2 separate regions of the Homo sapiens genome follow, and region 1 is linked to region 2. Evidence: fine-mapped expression QTL. A gene starts in region 2. The other region holds a variant in brackets. All regions are shown on one strand. Distances are from middle to middle.

What was found.
Region 1: its variant is fine-mapped to the expression of ZNF778-DT in nucleus accumbens (GTEx, PIP above 0.99).

Annotation. Positions count from the first base shown.
Region 1 is chr16:89,312,204-89,314,703 of GRCh38, forward strand. All of the region lies in intron 3 of ANKRD11 (ankyrin repeat domain containing 11), which reads right to left. Among named protein-coding and RNA genes, the nearest start is that of ZNF778, 96 kb to the left of the region's middle. RefSeq lists an enhancer at 652-1,446. The variant T/C (reference allele first, on the strand shown) is at 1,325.
Region 2 is chr16:89,216,293-89,219,308 of GRCh38, forward strand. ZNF778-DT (ZNF778 divergent transcript) reads right to left here and starts at 1,361. Exons shown (of 1, transcript NR_186410.1): 1 at 1-1,361. It overlaps ZNF778 (zinc finger protein 778), which reads left to right and starts at 1,411. Exons shown (of 7, transcript NM_001201407.2): 1 at 1,411-1,618. RefSeq lists enhancers at 1-243, 1,193-1,242, 1,767-2,297, 2,298-2,827.

The DNA of each region.
Region 1 (2,500 bases), 96 kb after region 2:
TTCCACTTCTTAAACGTGATGTGAGAACCTGAGGAGCTCGGCGTTCACAGCATCAGGTAAGCCTCAGTGCAGACGGCATGTGGCAGAGCTGAGAATGCACAGAATGCAAATTCGCTGCTTCAGAGCTAAACCTCCAGTGGGAGGAGATGAGGACAGTGTGTTCTACAGAGAGGAATCACGCAGGGGAGGGGCGGGGCAGGGCGGAGGCAGCATGCAGGCATGTGAACTGGGTGGTGGGGGAAGCCCAACTGTCAGGTAAGCAGAAATGGTAGGAGCTGGCGGGCCACAGGCCGTGTGCTCTGAGCCCTAAGACTGGGAAGAGAAGCGGATCCAAGTCCAGCAAGCCCAGCAAGTCTGGCTTCCTCTGTGATGCTGCTCTATGTCCTTTTCTGCCTTAGTGAAAAGATGGACAGAAATCACCCTCTCCACGAGCCCATGTGGGCCCACAGCGGTCTCAGGGGTGTGTGAGCCCAGCTTCGCCCTCCTGTGCTCTCGCCATCAGACACGGCCTCCTGCTCCTCCCGAAGCATGCGGGGGAGTTCTGGGCTCTGTTCTGAGTACAGACCCCATGCCAGACTGGCTCGTGAAACCACAGCCTGAGGTGGGACACGCCGAGGCCCAGCCATGCGCCTCCCAGCTTCTCAGCTAAGGTCACTCTGGAATACTTATCTTGAGGGACGTAGCTCCCAGCTCCCCACCTGCAGCACTGACAAAGCTATCTTCGGGGAGGGGCCTCAGACCAGATGTGAGTCTGTAACTGGCACAGACTGGGGGGGTTTCTGCTGAGACTCGCTGGAGGGCTCACATGCTCAGTTCTCAACTGCAGCCTCCATGCCCATGGACGCCATCTCCAGCCTCTCGGCCTCCACACAGCTCGCCAGGTCTCAGTGGGGCTGTGAATGTGGGTTCCTAACAAGCTCCAGCAGCTCAGGTGACTGCTCGTCGGAGGACACACTTTGAGAACCACCAAGTGAAGCTCAGGGGGCTGTGAGGCTGCCTGTGCTCTGAGTGGCGTGCATGGAGCACAATGAGACAGGGTGACTGTGCCATGGGGTGGGGACGACAGGGGACCCATGGGGTGGGGACGACACTGTTCTCTGTAGCCCTGCACACCTTTGGATCAGAACACACTCAACGATGCAGACACCTGCTGGTTCTTCCCGAGGCAGCTCAGCGGTTCTGGGATTCCGTGGTCGGCAATGGTGAGAGACCGTCTGCAGAAGGGGCCCTTTCTCTGACACGCCTGCCACTGTGCTCACTGGTGCAGCCAAAGGGACACGCACAAGCCGTCAGGTCAGCGCGGCATCAGGATGCACTGCAGAGT[T/C]GTGGGCTCCATTTCCATCTTCCACGTATATGTCACTGAGATCACGATTCTTTTGGAAAAATCTAAAAATATATTGTTTTTGATAACATAAAGCTATATCTGGAGAAAAGGGAGTTTATGGTAGAAGACTGAGCAGAAACCATTTCAGCCTGTACCAGGAGAAGGCAGGTCAGATGTGTGCACCTGAGTTCTGGCACTTGGGGCTCACTTCCTCCCTAAGGAATACAGCCTCTTCTAACAGCAGCTGCAACCAGGAGTGCGTCTTCCCAGGCATTCTATTTCAAGCTACTGTTCAAGCTAAGAAAGCTCCACCAGGCCTGAGAGCTCCCTACTCCCTGTAATGCGTTTAAAATTTGTCTGCCTCCATGAGGAAAATGCCTGGCTTTACTGTGAGTAGTTGGAAAAACAAACAAACAAACAAAACAGGACAGGCTGGGTGTGGTAGTTCACGCCTGTGATGCGGAAGCTGAAGGATCACTTGAGCTCAGAAGCTTGAGACCAGCCTTGGCAACATGGTAAGATCTCGTCTCTACAAAAGATACAAAAATGAGCCGGGTGTAGCGGTCTGCTCCTGTGGTCCCAGCTGCAAGGGAGGCTGAAGTAGGAGGACTGCTTGAGCCTGGGGCAGTGGGGCAGGGTGGGGGGTTATGGAGGGTGCAGAAGTTGCAGTGAGCTGAGACTCTACCACTGCACTCCACCCTGGGTGACAGAGTCAGACCCTGTCTCAAAACAAACAAACAAACAACAACAACAAAAAACCACACATACAACTGAACCCATAACACAGCTACCTTACTGGAAAAGCCCAGAGTGAAATCCACACATCCCTCACAGCACACGTGTGAACAGAGCTCGCATCGACATTATCAGGCCAGTTCATCAAGTCTCTCTTCTCCTTAAACAAGAGAACAACTCAAAGCAGCTGAGCGCACACATCAGCGCTGGGGCTGCCGGCAAATCAGGACACCCTGCCTCCTGCGCCAACACGACCTGCTCTCTGTGGCTCTTCCGGCCTTTCTCGTCTCGTGCTACCCTGCCGAGACTGCCTTCCCTGCAAGTCCACTGACACAGGGCTCCACCACGCCCAGCCTGCTGGTGTGTCAAGCGGCTCAGAGAACCACCTCCTCAATAAGCATATCTGAGACCTGAGCCAGGAGAGCTCCCTCTTTCCTCCAC
Region 2 (3,016 bases):
ACACTCATAGTGTTGAACCATTTAGCATGTGGTTGCTTTGTATACTTCGTGAAATTGTGTCCAATCTCTGCTAGCCATAGATAAGATAAATCCTGGGGCTCTAAAGACTGCAAGCCGTTGCTGCCCTTCAGAGCTTTGTGACTCAGACACCTGTCAGGCTGCTGAGAAACGTGATCTAGTCACGTCAGCCCTCCCCCTGTCTGATCTCCTTCTTCTCTGGGAGTTCTCTGCGCGCCCCCCGCCCACGCTCATTTTTTTCTCTTTTCTGAGTAGTGACCCCCAATTCGAAGCCTGTGGGTAATCTCATGGTGCGTGAGACTCCCTCACCCTCCAACCTGTCAAAGCTTGTGCGCCACCGCCACCTCCTGGGCACATCTTGTTTCTTAATCAGCCACGAAATCACGTGAACACTTCACATGTGGTTTTGTTTTGTTTTTCACATTTAGACTCCTGATCCGTTTGGAGTTTATCCCTGTGAGATCCAGAATTAATTTCATCATTTCTCAGACGGCTAACCATTTGTCTTAGCACCTTTCATTATAAACTGCATGTTTGTTCCACCGCTCTGAAATTATGTTTATGAACCAAATTTCCATGTTACTGGGTTGATGTCTGGATATTCCATTTGTTTCCTGTTCATGTGTCACTAGCACACAGTTTTAATGACAGAGGCTGTTTTCGCATCTGTCGGGCATTGCGCTTTTGTTTGTCCGCGTCGTCTGCGTTATGAGACATTTGTTCCTCCATGTGAACTCCAGGATCAATATGCCTGGTTCCAAAAAAAAAACCTTTTCGTATTGTTACTGGAATCATGTGACATTTCTGAATGAACCTTGGGAGAACCCCTGGTATCAGTGCTATTTTGCAACGTAGTATAGGTGGTCTTGGCTCCTACGGTACATTAGAAAAGTAACAGAAACGCATATTTGAAGCGAAAAATAGATGAACATTTACAGAAAAAAAAAATACCACATTGAAAATGCAGTGGAATCAACTGTTAAAAGTTCGGCGTGATGTTCAGACAGATAAAAAGGAACGGGGCCAGTGACTCCCTGCAGAGATCGAGAGAAGACCGAGCACTCCCAGCACCCGCGGGCTTCTCGCTGTGACCGAACCGCGGGCCGCGCTCGCGACGAGCACTTCCTGGCTGTACCCGCCCAACCGCGCCCTCCTGGTCTGTTCCGGCTCCGCAGTTGCGTCCAGAGGCCTGATCCTTACGTCCGCCTGGTCCTCCGGGCCTGTCTCTGCCTCCAGCCCGGTTCCCAAGGGCGCCCCGGGGCCCTCCCGCACCCTCGCGGAAGAAACTACTACCTCCCCGCACCATAGGCCAAAGCTTCGGCCCGGAGGCTGGAGGCGGAAGTGACGCCAAAGACGCGCCGGCCCCTCTTCCGGCGCCGGCCCCGCCTCCGCCTGTCTTACAGCTGATCCGGTTCTTGCGGCGGTGCGTGCTGGCGCCGGAGAGTTCCGCGCGTGTCCTCGGGCTGTCCGCGGGGAAGCTGGTCCGGGAGTGGGCGCCCGCCCGCCTGCCTCGCGCCTTGCGCCCCCGGCACCGCTTCCAGAAGGGAAAGTCGCCGCCGCTCGCGGTAGACCCGGGCAGCGCTTCCATTCCGCGGAGCTGGTGAGAGAGGGGCCCTTTGCTTCCTTCACTTTGAACAGGGCGTGTTTCTGTGAGAATCTGGCTTCGGCTTTGACGTTTTTTATTTGTTTCTGGCACATTGTGTTGGGACCGAAGCGTAAGGTAGACCCCTGAGCGCCCCGGGCGTGCAGCTCCCTGTGAAAGTTAGCCCGTGGGGGCCAGCGGGAGCGCGCGTCCCTCGCCGCCGGGACTTCCAGGCCCGGCCCTCGGGGCGGGAGGGATGCGGCCGTTGTCCCGCTGGTCTTGGAGTAATCGAATCCACGGTGAACAGTGTGTTTCGACTAACTGTATTTTTTCTCACGTTTTGCTTTAGAAAATCTGAATCTAATAAAAATGTGAACATCTGCTACAAGGAATATCCACTGCAATCGTTTTACTCCTTTTTAGCTTTGGGCCATGTTTTCTCTCTCCCCCAATAAATAAACCTTACGGTGAATTATTATTTGAGTGTAAGTAAGTTGAAATTAAACTGCACACATGATACTTAACCTTTAAATACTTGGTAAAGCGTCTGTTAAGGGTAAGGACATTATCCTACTGAAACCACAATATTAGTATTTCATCTAAGAAAATTAAAATTAGGCCGGGCGCGGTGGCTCACGCCTGTAATCCCAGCACTTTGGGAGGCCGAGGCGGGTGGATCACGAGGTCAGGAGACCGACACCATCCTGGCTAACACGGTGAAACCCCATCTCTACTAAAAATACAAAAAATTAGCCGGGCGTGGTGGCGGGCTCCTGTAGTCCCAGCTACTCTGGAGGCTGAGGCAGGAGAATGGCGTGAACCCGGGAGGCGGAGCTTGCAGTGAGCCGAGATGGCGCCACTGCACTCCAGCCTGGGCGACAGAGCGAGACTCCGTCTCAAAAAATAATAATAATAATTAAAAATAATAAGGTCCGCTGGGCACAGTGGCTCACGCCTGTAATCCTAGCACTTTGGGAGGCCGAGGCGGGTGGATCATCTGAGGTCGGGAGTTCAAGACCAGCCTGACTAACATGGAGAAATCCCGTCTCTACTAAAAGTACAAAATTAGCCTTGCATGGTGGCGCATGCCTGTAATCCCAGCTAGTCGGGAGGCTGAGGCAGGAGAATCGCTTGAACCTGGGTGGCACAGGTTGCGGTGAGCCAAGATCGTGCCATTGCACTCCAGCCTGGGCGACAGAGCAAGACTCCGTCTCAAAAAAATAAAAAAATAAAAAAATAAGAAGGAGGTCATCCACTGTCTACTTTGTGTAATATCTAGGATTCTCAACATTTTTCCAACATTGCGCTGTTGGGTATTTTGGGGACTAAGAGCCCTTCAAGGTTTATCTGTTCCCATCGTTTATGTCTTTTCACCTAGAACAACCCCTGTGGTTTCTCTATCATATTGACTTTGGT